7 linked regions of the Homo sapiens genome follow. The protein of the gene in region 5 interacts with the protein of the main gene of each other region in a biochemical or structural test. Each region holds a gene or a part of one and is shown on either strand. Other genes may lie near its edges.

Region 1 (3,500 bases), on a different chromosome or scaffold from region 5:
CCCATGATTTTGCTTTGTGGTAGTTGCAGACAGCTCACTATCTGCAGGCATTTAGATCTTCATACATCTCATCCACCAGGCCTTTCGTGTTACTCCACAAGGACTCTCCCTTGAACTCACTGCATCTGCTAGGATTGTCTTTAATGTTTTTGCACTATCATCCTATGGAACCTCCCATTTCACCTGTGTCAGTGTTCCCATGTGAAAGAACATGGCACTGTAAATAACATGCATGAGGGCACACAAACCAGCCAGGAAATAAAAATTTTCCAGGTCTGAATCCTGGGTCCTGCTGTCTTGGTTCTGTGAGCTCCCTGCCCTCAATCTCCTTTCATGTACATGGAGCTCCCTGCCTTCCTAAGGCTGCCAGAAGGCTGGAGGCGAGACCCACCCCAGAGTAACAAGTCCAGAGTGATGTTTAACAACTGTGGATTCTCTGTCTCCCTTTCTCCCAAAGGAGAAACAGATTGTTTTCTTTTTAAATGAGAAAGGTAAGACAGGACCCCCTACCATCAAAAAGCCTACAACCCATCTGCAAAGCCAATAGGCGAACAACTTAATAATAAAAAGCAAACAGAGAAAGACATTATAATGAATGTACAATGTACTAGGGAGACTAAAAGGAAAGAAAAACTGAAATGTGGAAGCGGGAGTAAATCAGAAAAAATGTTCATAAGAAAGCAATATTTATTTAAGCTAGCCCTTGAAAGTCAAAATTTCAGTGGTGGTGGTAGGGTGAGGGAAGAGGCAAAATTGAAACAAAGTATCAGGGACGGGCAGGAGTTCAGTGGTATTAGCAGAGACAAGGAGAGGACAGCTGGGCCTGCAAACAAGTTAGGGTCCAGATCACAGAGATTCTTGAAAGCTAAGAATAAAACAGGGACAGCTACTACTCTTATCTGTCCTTATATCAGGTATGATGCTTTCAGCTGCAAGTAACAAAAATACCTAACTCTAAGTGACTTAAATTGTGGTATCAAAGCTTTTTTGATCACGCAGGACTATCAGTTAAAAAAAAAAAAAAAAATTAGCCAGGCACGGTGGCTCATGCCTGTAATCCCAGCACTTTGGGAGGCCGAGGCGGGCAGATCACTTGAGCTCAGGAGTTTGAGACCAGCCTGGCCAACATGGTGAAACCCCATGTCTATGAAAAATACAAAAATTAGCCAGGTGTGGTGGTGCACACCTGTAATCCCAGCTATTCAGGAGGCTGAGGCAGGACAATCACTCGAACCCAGGAGGCAGAGGCTATGGTGAGCTGAGACAGCACCACTGCACTCCAACCTGGGCAACAGAGAAAGTTTCCATCTCAAAAAAAAAATTTTTTTTTAATTAAGCCAGGTGTGATGGTGCACACCTGTAGTCCCAGATACTTGGGAGTCTGAGGGGACAGGATCACTTGAGCCCAGGAGTTGGAGGCTGCAGTGAACTATCATCACACCACTGTACTCCAGCTTGGGCAACAGAGCAAGACTCCCTCTAAAAAAATAAAAAGTAAAAAATTTTAAAAACGTATTGAAGCTCAGGAATTTCAGGGGAAAAAATTTATAACATATATACTAACATATTATAAATTGTATTAATTTATGTGTAATTAAAACTAGTTATGAATGGTATGTATACACACACATGAATGTAGTATATACATTATACAACATTTAAAACTTTTAAAGGATGGGAGTCAAACAGTATTTTTAAGTTCATTTTTATTAATAATACAAATCCAAACATAATTTTGTTGTTGTTGTTGTTGTTTTTCAAGACGGAGTCTCATTCTGCCGCCGAGGCTAGAGTTCAGTGGCACAATCTTGGCTCACGGCAACCTCCACCTCCCAGGTTCAAGTGATTCTCCTGCCTCAGCCTCTCGAGTAGCTGAGATTACAGGTGTACACTACCACACCTGGCTAATTTTTGTATTTTTAGTAGAGACGGGGTTTCACCATGTTGGCCAGGCTGGTCTTAAACTCCTGACCTCAGGTGATCTGCCCGCCTTGGCCTCCCAAAGTGCTGGGATTACAGGCATGAGTCACCGCGCTCAGCCCATACATAATTTTTGAGCCACCTTCTTGTCAAATTTGTTTTAAAAGTCATGTTCTAAACTCATAAGAACATTTTCTTGTTCCTTTATACTTATATCATTATCATTACACTTTCTTTGCAAGAATCTTTTTAAACCACTCGCCCATTTTCTGGGGGTCAGTTTAGTTAAAACCAGATAATCTAGCCATAAATGTATTTAGATGGATAGAGTTCACCAAAGGCAAGAATAAGAATGAGGGTACCACTGTCAATTCCACCAGGTTGTAAAAGGCCCAGTCTTCCCTCAGGCAACCTCATATAATGTAAGTTGATAAAAGACTACCAGATATACCAACCAGTGTCAACTCATACATTAAATATTTTAAAAGCTTAATTTTTTCTAACATTCTTGAATATTTTCTTCCCTCCCATATTGGATGATCTAGCACACTCCACTCTGGGGACCACTGATCTTAAACAATAATGAGGCTGGGCACAGTGGCTCACACCTGTAATCCCAGCACTTTGGGAGGCCAAGGTGGGAGGATCCCTTGAGCCCAGGAGTTCGGGACCAGCCTGGGCAACATGGGGAAACCCCATCTCTACAAAAAATACAAAAATTAGCCAGGTGTGGTGGTGCACACCTGTAGTCCCAGCTATTTGGGAGGCTGAGGTGGGAGGATCACTTGAGCCCAGGAGGCAGAGGCTACAGTGAGCCATGATCATGCCACTGCAGTCCAGCCTGGGTGATAGAGTGAGACCCTAGCTTAAAAAAAAAAAAAAAAAAGATAAGAAAGAAACAATAACGAAAATGTTTTTTCTCACAGAAGTTCTGAGTCACAGTGGTTCTAGGGCTGGCTAATCAGCAGCTAAAATAAGTCATTGTGGGCTGGGGATGGTGGTTCACTCTGTAATCCAGCACTTTGGGAAACTGAGGTGGAAGGATTGCTTGAGGCCAGGAGTTCGAGACGAGCCTGGGCAACATGGTGAGACCCTGTCTCTACCCGCCCGCCTCCTACACCCCTGACACCGACAAAAAAAAAAAAAGTAATTGTGGTCTTAGGCCACCTTTAGTCTGCACTCGGTGCTACTTGTTCTCTTGTGCTGACAACCTTATGCTTCAAATATGCCAGGACCTAACAGGCGTCACATACATATTCATTAATGAGTCACTGGCAAAAGGTATGGCATTACTAAAATTGATGGCTTAATCAAAATTCACTCCCTGGGGCAGGGGACGCATCCACCTTACCCTTAAGTACATGGCCAGTGGAAAACTAATCAAAAGCAGGATTATAGTAGTAAGCACAGTCACCCCCCTCCACACCCAACCCTCCATATCTCAGGTTCCATGGCCACAGATTCAACAAACCTAGGTTAGAAAATATTCAAAAAATATTCTAGTAACTGACCACTGGAAAAAAGATAACAATACAATAAACACAATAAAATACAATAAATACAATAAAAATATAAATTTT
Region 2 (3,263 bases), on a different chromosome or scaffold from region 5:
TCTCTGGGGGTGGCAGGCAGCCATTCTGCTCCTTGTCAGCCCCAGCTTCCCCACCCGCCCCCTCCCCCGCCCCCTCCTCCTCCACCTTCTCATCCAGCCGGCTGGGGATGGACCAGTAGAGATGGGCATCAAGGCGGGCGGCAGCCTCTGCCAGCTCTCGAGCACTGCACGAAGGTGTGGGCACCTCAAAAGTCTCGTGAAAGCTGGCATAGTCCACTTCGTAGAAGCCGTCCTCCAGAGTCAGCACTGACGTGAAGCGGTGGCCCCACAGCACCTCGTCTACCAGGTAGGAGCTCCGAGCTTGGCATGTCATTCCTGGGAGGAGGGGCACCGGTCAGGGGGAATCTCAGCTCCAGGCTTCCCTCTCCTCTTCTCATTCCACAACCCTACTCCCAGCACCCTCCCTTCTATTCCTTCCTAAGGGCTCCCACCTCCCTTTGGTCCAGTCCATTTCCCCCCCTCCCTAGCTCCTGTTCTTACCCAGCTCCCTCGTGTCTTCTCCATTTGCCCCAACTCCTCTTAATGTCCAGCTCTTTTTTCCCCTCCTGTCATTTGGTGATGCCAACCAAAAAAAGCTTAACCTTGAAACTAACCTTAGGGATCCTCTAGTCCAACTTCTCACTCCATACAGGGCTCCCCAAAGGAGCATTTCTAACAATGGGCATCTAGCTTATACTTGATTACCTCCCAGGATTGATAGCTCACCACTTCATAAAGGGCCCACTCCTTTGTATGATAGCTCTAATAGTTGGGTTGTTCTTTATACAGAGCTAAAACCTGTACCCTGGGATTTCCAACTCTTGGCTTCATTCCCCTCCCACTTCACAGTCCTCTGAGTATCTGAAAACAGGAGTCTCAGATTCCCTCATGTTTTCTCTCTTGACTTAACATCCCTGGCTTCCTCCACGATTCCTCATTTGACCTGGTTTTCCAGAACTCTACTTTTTTGATTACAAGCCAGAATGGCCAAGGAGGGCCCTTTAAGCATTTTGAGTATAGTAAATTTTCCAACTGTGGCCTGCTCCGTGCATAAGAGAGCGCGCACCATCTCTCTCTTCTGGCCATGATGCTTTCACTAATAGGGCCCAGGATAACATTACATAATCATTTTGGAGGCTGCATCACATTGCTACGACATCAAGACTGTAGCCAACTAAAACTCCCAGTTCTTTTTTCACCAGTGCTCTTCCATGCTGTGCTTACATAAGTGATTTTTTTAAAGCCTAAATGTAGAATTTTATATTTATTCATTTTAAATGTCATCTTGCTGGGTTTTGGCTCATTATTCTTGCTTTTCAAAAGCGTTTTGAATCCTGACTGTCTCACCCAAAATATTACCATCCTTTCCAGCTTTATCTCTCTAGAAAAACAGACAGATTCCTATCCTCATCTCCTCTGTCCTGGTCCTCCCTGCCCGGGGCTTGTGTCCTATCTTCCTGTTGGGCTGGTGCACCCCTCAGGGCAGGTCATTCTCCTTTCTGCCACAGGGTCTTGCCCCCAACCCATATCCATCTCGGAACAAGGGGAAACAGAAGAGTGAACATTAGCTAACCGGAGAGTGGCTGTCAACTCGGAAAGCCTGGCGCTGAGACATTGGTATTCCTCGGTGAAGTTGGAATAGAAAGTATCCAGTGGGAGAGAAGAGAAAGAGGCATAAGGGACACTGGGGAGAGAAGGGCTTCGAGGAGGAGAGGGCAGGGCTGGGGGTACAAAGAGAAAAGAGGGCCGGGCAGCAACTTCCCTGGAGGGTGAGGGGCCTGCCTGAGATACTGGCAGAAAAGGAGTGACAGCTGGAGAGAGAGGAAAGGGAACGGGGTGAGTGGGGGAAGAGGAAAGAGTCGGGGTGAAGCAGGAATGGGAACAGTGATGCGGAGCTGGGGTTGGGGTGTGAAGCGGAGTCTCAGCCTAAAGGGGCCAGGGAAAGGATCTGAAGGCACCAGCTTGTCAGCGAAGCCGGCAGGGAGCATCAGCAGCTCTGGCGTCAGAGGAGGGACTGCGGCGCCCCCTAGTGGGCCTTTGGTCCTCCACCCGCAGTTTCCTCATCCTCATCTATCCTCTAGATCTCAAGTCCTAAGTGACCTCCTTTGCGACTCCTGTAACACTGGTCTTTTTTCACCTGCTCCCAAAGCCTTCACTGTGTAGGTCTGGGTTGGACTTATTGACATCACAGATGAGTTGCCAGTTCCTTTTGGAAAAGAGCTAGAAAAGGTAACATCATCTATATCCCTTGTCAGTGGAAATGGATGAATTGGGAAACCGAGGTACAAGTGAGACTAGGTATTAAACTCCCCTCAAGATCCGGCCTAGAAATAACTCAGGCAATGGAAAACCTTCACCGTCAAATTCCAGGGGCCTGAACCTGACTGCAGTGAGAAAACCCCTGAACCTAACCCCTCCTTCCAACTCGGGACCACTAAACATTGAAGCCACATTGCCTGTGTCCAATCCAGGCATGGCCACTTATTGGCTTAGGAAAGTGGACAACTTCCTTAATTTCTCATTGGAGCAATCTCATCTCTAAAAAGTGAGCACAATAACAAGAAGTTACCTTCAGAGGGTTCTTGTTAGGATTAAATCGACTCAGAGGTAGAAAGTGCTTTGGAACTGCGCATGACACAGGGTGAATACTGGGCGAGCACTAGCTATTATTACTGTCCCTATTCCAAGTGACACATTCCTCTGGGCCCAGGGCCCCACGCCAGTGCCATTTCGGAGAATTCCTCCAAGCTTTCTCTTGGCCTTCTGCGGCGTTGCTCGGTTCCACTCCCGCCTCCGACCCCTGTCTCACCTCACTGTCTCATCCTCCACCAGCCCCTCCATCCATCCTCCCCAGCTCCCCTGGCCCCTAGTCTCGCCCCTGCCTTCCTCGGTCCCGCCCACCCTCTGCCAACCCCGCTCCCCTCCCCAGGCCTGCTCGCACCCGTGGCTTCCACCATGCCCTCGAGGATAACGACGATCTCGAAGTCGTCCCTCTCGAGGGCACGGCGCGACGCCTCCCAGAAGGGGCTGGCGGCGTCGATCTCGTGGCTGATAACCAGCGGCGAGACGAGGAAGAGGCGGTCGTCTCCCGTGTCGAAGCCCACGCTGAGGTCGGTCTGGTGCAGCGGGATGAACTCGCCCTCCAGCGTCTGGCGCGAGCGGATGAGCTTGGCGCGGATGGAGGCCTCCACTATGTGTGAGGAGCGCAAGTCGCCCACGCGGAACATGAGGCAGAGGCGCCCGTCGCGCAGCGACACCACGGCGTGCGAGGAGAAGACGAGCGT
Region 3 (3,500 bases), on a different chromosome or scaffold from region 5:
CTTGGGAGGCTGAGGCATAAGAATCGCTTGAACCCAGGAGGCAGAGTTCTCAGTGAGCCGAGATTGCACCACTGCACTCCAGCCTGAGTAAAAGAGAGAGACTCTGTCTTCAAAACAAAACAAAAGTTAACAATGCACTAGAAATGTCCTCCACAGGATATGCTTTGTCTCAACTAGTCTTTATAACATCAGAAGTAGTGGGATTTCTGGCCTGTCTTTCCAAGGAGCACACTGACACTCCACAAGGAAAGACTCTTGCCCAAGGTTGCAAGTTCACCTTAGCTGAGTCTGGCTCTTGTAGAGCTGCGTGTCCCTCCTTGGTGGAGGGACTCCACACACCATGTTGGTTTGGACACAGGGTCTTCAAAGGTCCCACTAGCAGGGGTCCGACAGTCTCTGCCTCTGTCTGTCCCTCAAGCCCAGTTTGGGGATGTGGGGAGTACCTGGAGGGCAGCAGAGACAGAGAAGCCCACGAGGCCAGCACTGAGGTGGGCTTTGCTCAGCACAGCACACGTGGCAGCTGCAAACACCAGGCCATTCCCCAGGAGCTCCACATTGGCCGCAAGCCACCTGCAAAGGGAAGCGACAGCAGGGTGAGTGGTTACTCTCATCTGCAGGGAGATGCTTCTCTGGGCACAAGGACTGGTCATCACACCAGCTTTGTACACACAGGGGTCCCAGCAATGGCCTCCACATGCAACCCAGGCTCAGGGAGTAGAGGAAGATGACACCGTCCTGTCTCAACTAAGCCCACTTTAGGGTCTGGGGTACACTCGGTGTTCTGAAGAGCATCCCTGTGTGGCTGCTTTTCTGTCCCTGGAATTTGCCAAGCCATGTCCACCTGCCATTCCCCTGGCCTGAACCATGGCCTCCATGGTTTGGCTCTGTGTCCCCACCCAAATCTCATCTCAAATTGTAATCCCCACATGTGGAGGGAGGGATCTGGTGGGAGGTGACTGGATCATGGGGGCAGTTTTCCCCATATTGTTCTCGAGATAGTGAGTTCTCACAAGATCATATGGCGTAAAAGGATGCGGCAGTTCCCACCTCATGCTCTCCCTCTCCTGCTGCCATGTAAGACGTGCCTTGCTTCCCTTTCCACCATGATTGTAAGTTTCCTGAGGCCTCCCCAGCCACGTGGAACTGAGTCAATTAAACCTTCCTTTCTTTATAAATTACTCAGTCTCAGGTAGTTCTTTTTAGCAGTGTGAAGATGGACTAATACACAGCCCCAGCTGGCTGGGGACCTGAGATGAAAGGAAAAAGGACTTCACATGTATTGAGCACCTAGTGTGTACTTGACCCTCTCCACACTCTGGTACCAGACTGCTTGGATTCAAATCCTGGCTCTGCCAGTATTAGCTGTGAGACCCTGGACAAGTTTCCAAACCTCACTGTGCCTAGGATTTATCATCTATAGAACAGTTTCTTCCTGGTGAAGCTGTTAGCAGAATTAAATAAATTAATCTACATAGATTGCTCAGAACAGTGCCAGGCATGCAGTAAGCATGTTACAGGTCTTACCTATGAGTGTCTGTATTTAATCCTCATATCCACTCCATGAGCACGATCCCAGTTTGACAAATGAGGCTCAGAGAGGTTATGTAACTTGCCTGAAATCAACCAGCTGGTAAGTGGCAGAGCTGGGATTTGAACCTGTGTCTATTTGTGCTTAAAGCTTGTGTTCTTGTTCTTGCTTAGTACCTAAAGATGGCTGAGGATGCTTATATGGCTGCTTTATCACCAAGGCAAAAGAGGTTGATCCAGTTGCCTGGCAACAGAAGCTTCTTCCTGTACCCCCCGCCCACCTGCTGTTGAGAATCTCTCGGTCATGTTCCATCTGCCCACGGTGAGAACTGATAGACTGCCTGTGGGATCTAGCCTCAACTATGTCCCTGACTCTCTGGGTGACCTCTCTACCATACAATATGACCTCAGGTCTCACCCTCTAAGGATATGGATGAATTGCAAGGTCTTCTCTGCCCTGGCTCTTCCTACCTGTCAGCCACCAGTCGCGGGAAACTGATCCTCTGGCTTTCATCTACGCGAGCATTGTTCTGAGCCACAAAGGGGGCCTGGGTTCGGAATGCCCGGACCACTGTGCTGCCCTGGAACGTCTCAGCCATGTGGGAGCAGACAGACGAGTAGCTGGCTGACTCCAAGCGTCTCAGCTGGCATGAGCTAACCACATACAGGCTCTGAGAAGGATGGATGGGAGAGGGAAGAGGAGAAGCCACAGACATAGAGAGGTAGTTTCCAGAAGCACAGAGAGCCCCAAGTACAGGATTCCAGACCAGGATCTGTTAACAGCTTACTGTGTGACCTTGGGCTAGTTGCTTGCCCTCTCTGGGTTCTCATTTCCTTGCAGAATCAGAGTTCTATGGTTTTTTTGAAAATCACCTGGGGAGCTTCAAAAACCTCTAATGCCCCACCCCAGAATGACTGAATCGGAATCTCTGGAAATGTCACCTTGACTTTGGTGCTGTTTAAATAGCCTTCCAGATGATTCTAAGGGACAGCCAGGGTTGAGAAACCACCAATTTAGTTTAAGTGTCTCACTTCCCAGCACTGAGGCCGACTACTTCATTTACGGCTGGTCAGTGGGAGAACAAAACTGTAAGGGGCAATGAAGGCAGTTGGCCAAGTCAGTTTCACTCATGTAACCCAAGGGTTACATGCCAGGTGATGTGCAGAAAATATTCGTTATTTGGTTTGCAGCTGCAGGTTGGGTGCAGCTGGCAGACAGGCAGGCAGGGAGGAACTGAATTTGCTGAACACCCAACTGTATGTGCCAGGCTTTTCACACAGTGTCTCATTCATTGCAGAGTGAGCATTCGCGTCATTCATCAGTTAGTGGTGAGAACATCCAAGGCTCGGGGGATTCAGCAGCTGTCCTGAGTGCCACAGTAAGTGATAGAGCCTGGATTTAAACCCATCTTTGCTTGACTCTAAAGCTTGAGACAGAAACAGCCCATCCTCGGAGTCAAGTGAACTTAGAGAAGACCTAGGACAATTGTCGGGGACAGTGGTAGCCATGGGTTTTGTTGTTTGTTTTTTGAGATGGAGTCTCTCTCTGTCACCCAGGCTGGAGTGCAGTGGTGCAATCTCAGCTCGCTGCAACCTCTGCCTCCCGGGCTCAAGCAATCCTCCCGCCTCATCCTCCCAAGAAGCTGGGATTACAAGCATGCGCCACCACACTGGCTAAATTTTTGTATTTTTAGTAGACGGAGTTTCACCATGTTGACCAGGCTGGTCTCGAACTCCTGACCTCAAGTGATCTGCCCACCTCAGCCTCCCAAAGTGCTGTGATTAGATGTGTGAGCCACCATGCCTAGCCCTAGCCATGGTTTTTATCTGACTACCATGTTTTCTACTTCTGGTTTCCTGTGGGAAAGGGCTGGGTTGGGGTGCTGTCAATCATGGGACCTGATCAGAGAGGTGGTCACATGATGCAGCCTAGTGTATCAGAATCTACTATCCATTCAGTTACTGTGACGAGT
Region 4 (4,179 bases), on a different chromosome or scaffold from region 5:
GGCAAAATTTGATTTATTTAGTCTTACAATTAAGATCAAAGCAGTTGCATGTTTTATCTTAAATTATCCAGATTTTTACTCCTGTAAAATGTTTGAAAGTTTGGAGGATCATTCCCAAAAAAGTTTCTCTGAAGTCCATTTTATTATGCATCCTGAGAAAAAATTATACTCCCCTAGCTCCAGATCTCTAAACATCATGCTATACACAAATAGTAAAGTTCCATATAAAATGTCAGAGGAAATAAGAGAAGAAAAATATTTGAGCGGTTTCATAAAGTACTGAAGTTATTTCATCTGGGATGAGCTTGGAAAGAGTCTGATTATCCCCATGTTATCTGAAATACTTGACATTCCAACAAAGACAGAGCATGTGACTCCTCTTAAGGGAGCTGGTACTCATCCAGTGACATGGGAGGGAGGGCTTCAGCTGACTTTACGTGGCTAGGATTTACTGGTGGTGAGATAGTGGTTTTGAGGGTTTCCCCCACTTTGATATATAATTGTGTGTTTTCTCCCACATATTTTTTATAAAAACAATAGTTATGTTTATAAAAAAAAGGAAAAAAAACTTCTTACCCTTATAGATCTATGTCAGAGCTAACAGTAGATTCCAACACATGATTTAGGCTAGAATACATTAAATGGACTGACTGTTTTATGATTAGGATGTCATTAGAAAATAATAACATGAAAGGTCTATTTTAAGGTAAACAATTTTGTCACAAACTCCAGTGATCATCTGATTTTTGCCACATTGATCAGAAAAGCTAAAAAATAATTTCAAGTAAACTACTTGAATCTGGAAACACAAAGATGCATGAAATTTTAAATAAGGCATGAATTTTGGAACTTTGGATTGGTATGAATTCAGTTCTGGTATCTGACTCAGAATTATTCTCATTTTATTCCAAGCTAATTTGACATTACAGTAAAACATGAGAACCAAGTTGAATCCAGTACAGTGGTTCTGTATTGCAGAAAATAGAAAACAACAACGGACCTCTTAGTTATGATTACATTGCGTGGGGAGCATCTAAAAGTCTTTGATTCTGTTCCTCTTGCTTTATGGAAGGTGTAATATGAAAACATTATGCTCAATACTCTTCCCGGGTCTCAAGCTTCTAGGTCTCAATATTGTAGTGGTGAAAGGCTGCATTCCTTGTCAATACAGGGGAAATAAGGAGGCATTCTGAAAATGCCACTAATATATCTGGAATGGCTCAAATCAGCTCCTAAGAGGACCTGAATATTTTTCTTAACATTTAAAACTGATGCTATACGTTGCTTATAAACAAAGTTGAATTTCCTTTATAAGAATCAAAATGCAAGTTATAAAGCATTGCTTTCTCAAGTTAGTTGCTAGAATTTAAAGAAAAGGAGAGAGTGAAATATTACCTTGCACGTAATATATATTAAAATTTTTTTGAGTCATATGCTTTGAGACTACAATAACTTTATATTTTCTCAGAAGTTACAAATAAAAGTAGACTTTGCACACAAAATATGTTAGTAAATCAATTAACAAATATGAAGGGTTAAATAAATAAGCAATAGAAATGGAGTTAAATAATAAGCAATAAATATGAATTCCAACTTAATAGCTTGATAAAAAAGATGATAGAACTTATTTTGAGTGATTTATATAATGTAAGGTAAAAGAAATCAAGCTAAACCATGTGGGATGGACAATAAAGACAAGATTGTATGAGACTTGTCCAGAAAAAAAAAAGAATCGAGAGTGATCTTAACTTATAATGTGGAAGGCAAGCCAAGCAGAATGTACATCAGCTGTCAGATTGCTTCATGCCTTTTACAGCAGTTGTTCCTCTGAAAATAGCTTCCAAATGAGAAAGGATGACTACAAAAGGATTAGTTACCATAGGCTTTTCTACACCCCCTAGAGCTCCAGGTTTGTTATGACAGAACAGCAAGAATCTAAAGGAAGTAAACTATGGAATATTAAACAACGTCAGGATGGAGCCACATTCATGCTGTGCTATATTAATGCTACGAAGGATTTTTATTGATACCATTTCCATGGACTTCCTTCATGATGGCTGTTGCTTGCTGTTTTCTCTGCTTCATCATAGTATTATGTGATAGCATGGTTTTTTTGTTCCCTGTTAAAAACAAAGGGACATTATTGAGGCAATGTGAAGAACTCATTTGGAGTGTCTTATAATCACTGTTTTGAAAGACAACATCTTTGTTCTTTATTAAAAAGTTATTATCGCTTGCTACTGAAAGACTTCAATACGCATTCCTTATCTGGTGACAGAGTATGTTATTCATTGACAGGCAATGTCACAGTGAACAGAGACCCAGTCTGGACATTAATACAATGATCATCAGGCAGTGAGAAACAATGAAATTGCTGGTCTCCTTTCCCCTCCCTCTCTTTTCTCCACAGTATTTTAGTCTGTCATTGTCTCCTCACTGGCCTTCATTTGTACCAGCATCACACTCCATCAATTCCAGCAAACTGTAAGAATGAAGAAGACACTAGACTAAACCAGAATTCTTTGGTGGTAGCATTTTAATATTGGCAACAGCTGCCCTTTAAAGCAGAGAATGCCCATTTATGAGTCACAACTCTGAATATCCTTGGACAACTGACTAATGAAACATTTTAGGAAACAACATACTCACCTTGCTGTTAGATTGTGCTTTTTCAGCGGGGATGAATCCCAGTTTGTGGAGGAAGACTCTGGAGATGGACTATGGATGGCACTTGGGCCTGATGGTTTTTATCCTTGAACCTGGGACAGCATGGTCCCTACTCTGACTCAAACTGGGGACTGAGCTTTTCTGAAGAGACTGGCATTCAGCTGACATCAACTGGCTATATATAGCACCAAATACTTTAGCTACTCATATCTTCCTGGCGAAAGGGAGGAACAGGGAAAGATTAGGCTCTCTCCATTGTGTTTCTAGTTTGTGAGATGGTTAAATGAAACGTTCATTGGACATGCAGAAAGTTTTTAGTGAGCACTTTCTGTTGAACAGATAGTAGCCAAAAGGGATTTTAAACACTTTTAAACATCTAGCTCTTATGTTACATGTTAATTGAGGTGGCAAGAGACACATGCATGAATCAGAACAGAATGATAGATTTTTCATAATTAAAATGAACAATATAGGCAGTAATATCTATGTAGACTCAAGAAGAAAGGAAGTAATGTGGGGTGGATCAATAGAGCCAGTTCTTAAGCTGTAGTGAGAACTCATGCTAGGTTGAGAAAAGTATGTAGTATTTGAATAGTGAACTCAGGAAGCATTTTGAAATGAACCATTAGAGGATAAGCCATGAAGCTGGGTAAAAGCTGAGACTCATAACTGGGTCATGCTTTTTGAAGGGCCTACAGAGACCAGTCCCTGCAAAGTTGACCAGTCTTTACAATGTCTAGGGTCAAGGATTTTCATTTGCAGGCCTGACAAGATTTGAAAGGTTTGCCTGTCAAAAGGTTTGGCCTCCTTGATGGTCCCTGGACACAAAAACGTGCTCTCATCTCTGGGCTTTTCCTTTTACTGTTTCCCCCTTTCCTTTTACTATTTCCCCCTTTCCCTGGTTGAAATGGTGTCCTCAACAGATAATCATTATGTTAATTTTGGTTTCCAAAATGAAAATAGATACTGTATTCCTTTTACTATTTCCCCCTTCCATACTTTCCCTCTACTCACATGGCACAGTCATGCATTCAGGACTCTGCTCAGATAACAATCCCTCATAAAATCCTTCCCTTATCACCTTGTCTAAAATATCACACTGTGCCACTCTCTAGTCCCTTACTCTGCTTCATTTTCTTTATATTTTTCTATTAGTTAAGATAAAAGTCAAATGGGAGTGACAGAAACCCCCCCAAAACAGAACTGTAAAAAGATGGAAGATGTTTCTCTCACAGGTAAGCTTAGTCTAGAAGTAAGTAATTGAGGGTTTGCATGACTGACATAATTATCAAGGGCTCAGTTACCCTCTAACTTTTTGCTCCACTATCCCTAAAATGCAGACCCCTTGGGCCTAATTGGCTGCCCCAGCTCCAGTCAGCATGCATATATTTCAACCAGCAGGAAAAAGAAAAAAAAATGAGAAGGGAACACTGTCTTCTTTTCAGAACATGTCTGATATTTTGTTCATACTTCTGTTTACATCCCATTGGGCAGAACTTAGCCATATAGCCG
Region 5 (3,500 bases):
TCGGCACTGACTAATTGGTGAAAAGGACCTGAGAATTATCTCCTGCATCTTGGCCCCTTTGCTTTGAGGACCCTGAGCTCTCTCAGTGATGTGTCACTCAGCTGTCTCTTTGGGATGCTCAGGCTTGGGGAAGACTCCTCTCCACAACTGCCCCACACCTGGCCAAGCCGTATGTGCACCTGAGTCAAAAGCAGTGGTGAGGATCCCTAGAGGACCAGACTCTGCTGGGAAACCACCCAGGATCTCCCTGTGGCCAGTAGTGCCTGGAGCACCATGCCCAGTGGTCTACTCTGGATACCTTGGTGCCGCAGGAAGGATGTGTTTGGTGAGCCTTCAGTTGCTGAGAGAGAGATTTCCGGAGGTTCTTCTCTTTGATGACCTGCAGGAGGGAGGGGGGAAGAAAGGGTTCCAGGCCCCACTCCTTCCTAAAAGCAGAAGAAAAGTAAGAGATTAGTGAGAGAGGCAAAGTGGGACAGAGAGAAGATGGTAAGACAGAAATTGACTGAATCTGAGAGGTAGAGATGGAGGAATAGAGACTGGGAGAAAGAAAAAGGGACAGGGATAGGAAAATAACATTAGCCACAGCTCCCTAGTAGAAGCTGTAGCTCTAGGGCTTCATAGTCTAGATATGAGGGACTCCAATTCTCACTCCCATCCCATGTCCTACATTTCTGAAAAGCATAGCATAGCTCAACCAGTGTACCTTTTCCCTACGCAACTATTCGCCCCCCATCCCAACGGGCCGCAGCACAACTCACTCCACATTCTTGAGCGAGATCTTCTGACTAGGTCGAGTGGCTGAGACAGTGATATAGATGTGGAGCGCAGCAAGGCCCAAAAGCATCTCTGGCTTGGGATCCATTCCAAAGCGTTCTCGAATAACATCATTCCGACTCTGTGAGAGAGGGCAGTCCAAACCTATCAGCTGAAGGAGACATTCCTTCCCCACCCCCTGATCTACTCCCTTACATCCCAGACAATACTCATAGTATCAGTAAGGCATGCTAGATCAAGGGACAGAGGAAGGAGCTCCCCTTGGAGAAGAGACAACAGAGGAGGCTCAGGTCTCATAGACACTGTTCACTTTATTCAGCAGATACTAGATAGCCTTCTCAGTGACAGGGGCACACAATGGCAAGGTACAAGCAGACAGTCCAGTTCACTGCAAAAGTGAGACATGGCACCACTCCCTTTCTTTCCTCCTTTTATAAGAGACTTTCCTACTTTTTTTCATGGGGGTTATACTCACCCCCAAGCCATACAAGGCTCCTTTACTAGCTCAGATGGAAACAAGGGGAGAAAGATACTGGGAGGGACTCTCCACAGGGCCCTGGCCCAGAAGCCCAGGGTGAGAGCTGAATTGCAGGGATGGGGGAGGCATTCTTCTTCTTGGTGTCTGAAGGACAAAAATGTTGATGAGTCAATCTTCCCTATGCTATCCTAGAGGAGGTCTCCAGGAACTACTGGCCAAGGGTATGACAACCCCCAAACCCTGAGGGTCACAGCCCCAGCTATCAATGAGTCAGCCTTGGTTAGACCAGTTTCCCATTTTGTTAAAGTGGAACCAGTATGGACTAAGGGACTAGGAAGCCACAGTGATATCACTATAATATAGGAGAGAGTGGAAAAGGAATACATCATCAATGATCATCTATGTAGAAAATTCAGTGGATTCTATTACAAAAAACTACTACAACTACAGTTTTCCCTTGGTATCCATGGAGGATTTCTTCCAGGACCCCCATGGATACTGAAATTTGTGGATGCTTAAGTCCTTTATATAAAATGCTGTGGTATTTGCATGTAACCTATGCAAATCCTCCTGTATACCTCTATCACCTCTAGATTACTTATAATGCCTAATACAATTAAAATGCTATATAAGGCCAGGTGCAATGGCTCATGCCTGTAATCACAGCACTTTGGGAGGCGGAGACTGGTGGATTACCTGAGATCAGGAGTTCAAGACCAGCCTGGACAACATGGTGAAACCCCGTCTCTACTAAAAATACAAAAATTAGCTGGGCATGGTGGCGGGCGCCTGTAATCCCAGCTACTTGAGAGGCTGAGGCAGGAGAATCACTTGAACTCAGGAGGTGGAGGTTCCAATGAGCCGAGAGCGAAACTCCATCTCAAAAAAAAAAAAAAATTGCTATAGTGCTATGTAGGCCAGATGCTGTGGCTCATGCCTAAAGTCACAGCACTTTGGGAGGTTGAGGCAGGTGAATCACTTGAGGTCAGGAGTTTGAGACCAGCCTGGCCAACATGGTGAAACCCTGTCTCTATTAAGAAATACAAAAATTAGCTGGGCGTGGTGGTGCATGTCTATAGTCCCAGCTACTTGGGAAGCTGAGGCAGGAGAATTGTTTGAACCTGGGAGGTGGAGGTTGCAGTGAGCCGAGATCATGGCACTGCACTCTAGCCTGGGTGACAGAGCGAGACTCTGTCTCAAACTAAACTAAAATAAAAATGCTATGCAAATAGTTATTATATTATATTTTTAAATTTTGTATTTTTTATTATTGCACTGTTATTTTTTATTGTTTTTGAATATTTTCAAAATCCACAAATATGGAACCTGTAGATATGAAGGGCCAAATGTAGTGAGTTTACCAAGGTTTCAGGATATAAGATCAATACACAAAAATCAATTGTATTTCTATTCTTTTAAAAATAAATCTTTTTGTATAGAGATGGGGGTCTCACTATGTTGCCCAGGCTGGTCTTGAACTCCTGAGCTCAAGTGATCTTCCTGCTTCAGTCTCCCAAAGTGCTGCAATTACAGACGTGAGCCAACATGCCCAACCCCAACTCTATTTGTATATGCTAGCAAGAAATAATTGAAAATTGGAATTAAAATCAAAATCATTTACAATAGCATCAAAAAATATGAAATAATTAGGGACAAATCTGACAAAACATATGAAAGACCTATATACTGAAAACTACAAAATACTGCTGAGGAAAATTATAGAAGGTATAATTAAATGTAGAAATACTGTGTTCAGGGATTGGAAGGCTCAATATTGTTAGGATGTCAATTGTCCCCAAATTGATCTATAGTTTCAACACAATCCTAATCCAAATCACAGCAGGTTTTGGTAGAAATTATCATGGTGATTCTAAAATTCACATGAAAATGCAAAGGACCTATAATAGCCAAACCAACTTTGAAAAAGAACAAAGTTGGAGAACAAATACTTCCTGATTTCAAGAATTATTATAAAGCTCCAGTAATCAAGAGTGTGATGTTGACATAACGACAGACAAGTAGACCAACAGATCAGAATAGAGAGTACAGGAATAGATCTATATATATATATATATATATATATATATATATATATATATATAGACAACAGATTTTTAACAAAAGTACAAAGGCAATTCAGTGGAGGAAGGATACTCTTCTCAACAAAAGGTGCTATAACAATTGGATATCCATATGCAAAAAAAAACACACACACACACACACACACACACACACGAAACTTTGATGG
Region 6 (3,500 bases), on a different chromosome or scaffold from region 5:
GATTATTGTTGTCCTTTAGGTCAAGATAAGAGAAGTAAAAGAACCACTTACATTTCACAATGATGAAACCAATTACCAAAAACATAATTTCCTACTTCATTAATGGTACTTTCACACTGACTCTAAAAGTAGAAAAATTGAGGAAAACTAGCAATTACATTTTGGTGATAATTACCCTGCAAGTTAGTGACAGATCAAAGATCAGATAAATTTCCTGACTCTGGTTTTGTCACAAGCAAGACTGATTAAAACTTAAAAAAATGGTTCACGTAATCAAAATGAATTGTAAATGGTAAATGAAAATTACTAAGCATTACCTACACTAAAATAAATGTTTGTAAGAGTAATTACAGCACAAGAAATAAGGAACAAAAGGGTGGTTTATATGAGTAGAGTTTTAGGTTAAAAAGTTGCCATCTTTGCTCTTTTATTAAAATAAACTACCTTTTAAAACATTTTTATTCAAGAATGATTTTTATTTTCAGGTTAAATATTAATCAACTATAAGATGTCTCGAAAAATAACTCTGAGGGATTTATAGCCAGCATTAGGTAGGCAGGCCAACTCAGACTTTACTAAAGTAAAACGTTAAGTAGTTTTACCTTTTCATGAAATGCTGTGATCAGCCAAAGATCCACATCAACACTGGTGCCTCGTTTTTCTGCACCAATGAACTGTAATATGTTCTCATGCTTCATTCCAGGCAAACTGTAGACTTCGTATTCATTTTGCCATGACTGTTTGTCCTAGAGTCAAAAAGAAAGAATAGTAAGAACACAAGGAATACAGGTTTAATAAACCATGCATAAGAGATTACTCAAATAAGTTCCAAAGTAAAACAAAACAAAACAAAAAAGTCTTAAAAAATTTTTTGTTCTGTTTTGTAATAAGAAAAAGCTCTGACAATAGGTTAACAAATTTATACTAAATGCCTGCCCTTTTCATTCCCTCAAAACGTACTTTTCTGTGTTTCTAGTTTACAAACACAGAAGGTGATCGGAAATGCTGCATTCTGTGTCTTACAATGGCAACACGTAAGTTACTGCAAGTATTACACTGTAATTTCATCATGGTGTGAAGTTACTTGTGGTACTATTCAGAATAATCTCCTTGAAAGATGAAATTCCGGCAGAATGACTTCCTCTAAATAGAAAACTTCTTCTTTTCAAAAACTAACATAATATCAAACATCCTTCAAAAAATGTTTAGCATACCCTACAAGGTCTATGAGAAAGCAAGGGGCAAAGATATGCAATGCAATAATTTAAGACACCATATATTCACTTGTGCCTGCAAGCAATCCATGTCTACTAAGTATCTACTTATAAAAGATTAGCTTCTTTTCACTACTAAAAGACAATAATAGTAAGAGGCACTATGGCATAATGGTTAGAAACCCTTAGAAACTCTCTGCATCCAAACTGTCCAAACTTAAATCCTGGCTCTCCCACTAACCTCTGGCAAGTTACATAATCCTTCAGTGTCCTCATTAAGTAGAAAAGGCATTGTAGTGTCTGTCTTATAGAATTGTTGTATTATATGTTGCATTTTATGTACATGTGGGTAATATACGTACACATATTAGTGAGTACTCATATATGTAAAACACCCCTACCTGACCCAATAAAAGCATACAATAAAATGTTAGCTACTGTTGTTGCTGTTGTCGGGCTTGTTAATATCATCCAAATGCCTTTCTCTGAGCTTTATGCTTCCTTACACATGGAAATAATTTCTTCCCTTATCTTATTTATGAATCTTGGCACAACAGAATACACTTTCTCTCTGAAAACTAAACTGTGGTTTACAGCTACCAAAAAAAAATGTAATACAGTTCATAAACTCTATGTAAACAGTTTATAGACTGAACAGAGGAGGTAAGATTGAACAGAGGAGGTAAAAAGGTTAAAATCTAGGTATATTAAGACAAAGAAACTGCTTATATGATAACTTTGGAAAAAGAAACATCCACTCTCTAAGTATGGTGGTAGAGCCTGCAACACCAAATCCAGCCAAGACGTCAGTACCAAGGGTATCATGAGCTGCCAGGGTATATAAGCAAGAGATGGGGAAGACAGAATCATCATAAATCTATACCACCAACGGAACAAAACAAAACACAAGAATAGCTCAGAGGTACATTAGATCAGAGTTTTATGAGAAGTCCAGCCAACCTTAAAAACAATTCAACAGTAAACCAATTATTTGAAGTCTCGATTGCCTCTGAAAATGCATCAAACAAAAACTGAAATAATTAAACACTCAAAGTAGAATGAAAGTAAGTCAAGTCTGGTGATATACCTCTAAATACCAATTCTAAAACAAAGTATACTGCTCTTTTGTTTTTTTGTTTGCTTTCTCTGACAACGTAGGGGGATATTAAAATTTAACCACTCAATTAGACTTGTTTATTGGAATCTTTATCTTTATTTAACATTTCTATTAGAATTTTCACTGGCAAAAGATCTACTATGCATTCATTTAATTCCACCACTCCAGACAAACATAATGATTGTTATATTAACAATTCCATTTCTCAGATGCAAAGGCAGGCATTAAAAGAGCTAACTGCTTTCCCCAGTATCACAAAGAACCACCTTGGTACATATGGCTTCTGTTTTGAGACTATTTCTGAGTTATGATGACCTAGCCATAAAACATGTATGTAAGATGACAAAACTGCAATAAACATACCTGTATTGGAAATATTTTGACAGCCACATATTCGTTAAGCAACTGGGCTTTCCAGACACAACCAAATCTTCCCCTTGCTTTCACTTCTAATAACTGCAGTGGTTTCAAACCTAGTAATGGAGAAGGTGGGGGTGGTCCTGGGTCCTACAGATAAATAATAATAATACTATAAATAAGCAGAACATGACACACACCAACTCTGAAAATGAGAAAAAAAGTGAGTATACTGAAAAGTCAACTGACAGAAACAGTAAACACATATGAATGACATTAACTTCAATGTTGCCATAATTAGATTACTAATTATCTATAGTGATCACAAGGCAGGCAACCTGAATTCAGAGTTTCATAATAATGTTCAGCATTATTGCTATATATGTACCACAGGAGAGAAGATCTAAAATCTTTCTGATCAGTCTCAGTAATATTCCCCACTAAGATTTTCTGTGAACTACGAAATACTCCTAACAATATTTCATTTGTTTCATCCAGTGTGTACTTCGAGGAGGATGATTTGAAAAGTGCCAGAAACAGCAAATTATGACTATATATCAGCAAAAACCTCTCCTGAAGATCTATTACTTTCTCCAGTGACTGTTTAAATTTTTTCTTCATTAATCTCAGAGATACCGGCAGTCATTCTTAAACACATTGCAGATAGGTATATCAAATACAAAGCACATACAGGAAATATGTAAGTAAATATTTCTTTAACCAAACTGGTTCATTCTAATTTTAAACATATTAACAATTCATCCCTTTGATCTGAGATAAAAAATCATTTGTGTTCTGGAACTGACTGACTG
Region 7 (3,500 bases), about 96 Mb from region 5:
TGTGGGGCTGTGCACTGCAGGGTATTTAAAAGAAGCATCCCTGGCCTCCCACTAGATGCCGGTAGGAACTCCCCTGTGGTAGACAGAATAATATACCACCAAAAATGCCCACGCCCCAATCCCTAAAACATGTGAATACCTCATAGCAAAGGGAACTTAAGGTTTCAGGTGGAATTAAAAGTCACTAATCAGCTGACATTAAAATAATGAGATTATCCTGGATTATCCAGGTGAGCCCAATGTAATCACAAGAGTCCCGAAAAGAGCGAGAGAGAGAAATGACCACACAAGAAGAGTGGATGAGATGCAACTTGGCTGGCTTTGAAAATGAAGGAAGGGGGCCACTGGAAAAGGAACCACAACAGATCCTAGAGCCTTCAGAAGGAACACAGTCAGGCCAACACCTTGAAGTTAGCCCAGTGAAACCTGTTGGGATTTCTGAGGTCCAGAACTGTAAGACAATAAATTTGTGTTGCTTGAAGCCACTAAGTTTGTGGTCATTACAGCAGTGATAGGAAATTAATACACCACCACTTCCAGTTGTGTCTTCAGACACTGCCAAATGTCCCCTGGGGACAAAGTCACCTCCAGGTTAAGAATCACTGCTCTACACAAGTCCAAACTCCTGAGATGAGCACAGTGAGACGCTTCGTAATTACCACTATCCTACCTGTTGAACACTATTATCCTGCACACAGCAAGATACATCCTCTTCTCCAGGCACCCCAAACTTCACTTGGGCAACACTCAATATGCCTTCACTCTCTGCAGTTGTGATGCCCAGGGGCTCCTTGGAGAGTAATGTGCTTTGACCAGTCTCTCATTTTTGTTCATACCCATAATTATCCCCCCAGTAGAGGCTGGGTGTGGTGGCTCATGCCTGTAATCCTAGCACTTTGGGAGGGTGAGGCAGGCAGATGGCTTGAGGCCAGGAGTTCAAGACCAGCCTGGCCAACATAGTGAAACCCAGTCTCTACTGGTGCATGCCTGTAGTCGCAGCTACTGGGGAGGCTGAGGCAGGAGAATCGCTTGAACATGGGAGGTTGCATTGAGCTGAGATCGTGCCACCGCACTCTAGCCTGGGCAACAGGGTGAGACTCTCTCTCTCTCAAAAAAAAAAAAAAAAAAAAAAAAAAAAAAAAAAAAAAAAAAAAAAAACCCAACAGGTCTGATTTCTGACTTTATTCGGTCAGGCTTTTATTACATGAAAAGCCATGTGGTTGTACGTGTATCAAACTGCAGGTGCCCTAACCTGCTCCTCCAAACAAATTATTGCGCTTAGGGCCCTCTAAGTCTTCTTTTTTGGGAGCTGTAGAATCACCAACACCTCTGCGCCTTTGCCTGTCCACTCTTTTCTGCCTCATGAAGGCATCACTTTCCTTCTTCTCCTTAGAAATGGCAGTCATCTTTGAAGATCAAGTTTAAATGTTCTCTGGACAGTGAAGCCTTTCAAGGCCCCCCAAAGCACAGTGAATCATCACCCGCCCCTCTCTGTTCCCTCATTCTGCTGATCTTCTGTATTCCCCCTATCAGTTAACTCACCTGTCCCCTCATTAGACTATGAGCTCTTTAGCCTCTCTGCATTCCTAGTACCTACAGAAATGCGTATGCTCAAGAAATGCTTGTGCCATGAATGAAGAAAAGTATAGACGCCAGTGATATATAGAAATCATTTTAATTATGGGTTGCAAAAGTTGGCAAACTCCAGGTTAGCTATGGACATAATCCCAGCTCTGATCCACAAGAATTAGGAGAAGCTCAGGATTGAAATGAGACTTTATTCCTTTGCCTGTGATCAGAGTCAGGGGCAGAGCTTGGCTGCTAAGAACACAAGTTGAGAAACACGTTCCAACTGTGTTACCACGTACCATTTACCCTTTGTCTCCTCCATGTTTCTACTCAATAGATGATCTACCCAGCATGTCCAGGAATCAGATTTTGTTAAAGCAATCCTGAAACACGTAGTGAGGAAATGCTAACAAGATCGTAGCTGACTTTGCCTAACACTTCCCAGGTTTAGGCCATAAAATGGTCATTTGTAAGCTTTGAACGAGCACAAGTAACAAAGCTGCAGGCATTTGTGAGAGTCTTGGGAGCAGGGGCTGTTGTATGGACAATTTACGTTAAAAGCAGACAAGATTCTGAAAGAACAAAGTGGGAAATGGATGAGATCCATCAATGGCTAAACCTGAAGGTGAATTCTTAGGATTTCATATGGATTCAATGGAAGAGAAATAGAAAATTTGAACAGACTGTAAGGGGTACATGACTCCAGAGGGATCCTCGTGGTTTTGGAATCAAACGAAGGCGCCAACAAAGTTTAGGCCAGCTGTAAACACTTCTGTGGGCACTCTCTTGATGGCCAGCATGGGGTACTATGGGCAACCTCACTAACGCAGCAGTTCTCAGTTAGGGCGATTTTGATCCCCAGAGGATATTCAGCAGTGTCTAGAGACATTGTTTGTTGTCACACTGGTCTGGAGGAGTGCTACTCGCATCTAGTGGGAAGAGGCCAGGGGTGCTGCTAAATACCCCGCAATACCCAGGACAGCTCTGTAGCAAAGAATCATTCAGCTTCAAATGTCAATAGTGCCAAGGCTGAGAAACCCTGAGCCAGAGCAACCAGAAAAGTTCAAGAACCAAATCTATATGAACCAGATATTCCCTCCAGGGCCTCTAAGCAGCCTTGCAAGATGCTCATTGGCTGACATTTTGATGTCATTAGTAAAGACTCTCCTTTAAGGACCAAAGACTCAGCTTGCCTGCAAGTGAAAAGGACAGGCAGTGCCCAATAGGATACATTTTCTTGGTTTTTCAGAGGGTTCCAGGGCGTTAAACCTTTGAAAGGTAATCCAGGCCATTAAATTAGAGATCCAAGGGTTATGTTAGGATATCTTGGCCTTTATTAAACAAAACCAGGGTTGGAGCTACATGCTAGAGTTCTATCCAATCACTCCATGCCTGCCTCAAGCATAAAGGAATTTCCAACACACACACACACACATACACACATATTCTATGAGAAAATTCTGGCTTTTTGCTAGATGGCTACATCCTTAGTTTTAACCACCATGAAAAGGTAAAAATCATGGTAGATGAGTTTTGTGCAGACTGCCCACTGTATGGAATAGAAGCCACCCAGTATCACTGCAGTTCAGATCCTTGTCCATTAATTATGAGATGCTAATGGATAAGAAGATAATTTGCAACAAGTGAAATCATCTACAGCCACATGCCTTTTGGTCATAACAGTAATGAGCAGCATCTGTATACTATATTCCAAGTATGTATATGGTTGCTAAGAAAAGCAGAAATGTTCTTAATGATGCAATTAGTTTTAAGCACGAATGTTAGCTAGCTAATCCAAAATGCTGGCTTGCTTTTGTATTTCTCTTTCTCTCAACTTGTACAGATTAATCTGATAATGTGTGCTTCTGAAATACAATGAGAATCCAGCCCCTCCTAAAGACCAAGAGAAATTCAACATTTCAATTTTTGAT

What was found.
Region 1: the proteins of FRMPD3 (region 5) and TANC1 interact in a test that uses a peptide from one of them, tested with the Homo sapiens proteins (one large-scale study listed by IntAct).
Region 2: the proteins of FRMPD3 (region 5) and KCNJ9 interact in a test that uses a peptide from one of them, tested with the Homo sapiens proteins (one large-scale study listed by IntAct).
Region 3: the proteins of FRMPD3 (region 5) and ABCC6 interact in a test that uses a peptide from one of them, tested with the Homo sapiens proteins (one large-scale study listed by IntAct).
Region 4: the proteins of FRMPD3 (region 5) and MYOZ2 interact in a test that uses a peptide from one of them, tested with the Homo sapiens proteins (one large-scale study listed by IntAct).
Region 6: the proteins of FRMPD3 (region 5) and ACVR2A interact in a test that uses a peptide from one of them, tested with the Homo sapiens proteins (one large-scale study listed by IntAct).
Region 7: the proteins of FRMPD3 (region 5) and ARHGAP6 interact in a test that uses a peptide from one of them, tested with the Homo sapiens proteins (one large-scale study listed by IntAct).

Annotation. Positions count from the first base shown.
Region 1 is NC_000002.12:158,975,140-158,978,639, reverse strand, and holds part of TANC1 (protein TANC1), read right to left. Parts: intron 1-3,500. UniProt on the Homo sapiens protein: May be a scaffold component in the postsynaptic density.
Region 2 is NC_000001.11:160,084,538-160,087,800, reverse strand, and holds part of KCNJ9 (G protein-activated inward rectifier potassium channel 3), read right to left. Parts: coding exon 2,921-3,263; intron 316-2,920; coding exon 1-315. UniProt on the Homo sapiens protein: Inward rectifier potassium channels are characterized by a greater tendency to allow potassium to flow into the cell rather than out of it.
Region 3 is NC_000016.10:16,160,995-16,164,494, forward strand, and holds part of ABCC6 (ATP-binding cassette sub-family C member 6), read right to left. Parts: intron 2,199-3,500; coding exon 1,999-2,198; intron 571-1,998; coding exon 444-570; exon of another isoform or gene 278-443; intron 1-277.
Region 4 is NC_000004.12:119,134,453-119,138,631, reverse strand, and holds the start of MYOZ2 (myozenin-2), read right to left. Parts: upstream 2,801-4,179; 5' UTR 2,650-2,800; intron 2,121-2,649; 5' UTR 2,107-2,120; coding exon 2,031-2,106; intron 1-2,030.
Region 5 is NC_000023.11:107,557,652-107,561,151, reverse strand, and holds part of FRMPD3 (FERM and PDZ domain-containing protein 3), read right to left. Parts: intron 896-3,500; coding exon 759-895; intron 426-758; coding exon 299-425; intron 1-298.
Region 6 is NC_000002.12:147,914,529-147,918,028, reverse strand, and holds part of ACVR2A (activin receptor type-2A isoform 1 precursor), read right to left. Parts: intron 2,839-3,500; coding exon 2,695-2,838; intron 747-2,694; coding exon 603-746; intron 1-602. UniProt on the Homo sapiens protein: On ligand binding, forms a receptor complex consisting of two type II and two type I transmembrane serine/threonine kinases.
Region 7 is NC_000023.11:11,659,421-11,662,920, forward strand, and holds part of ARHGAP6 (rho GTPase-activating protein 6), read right to left. Parts: intron 1-3,500.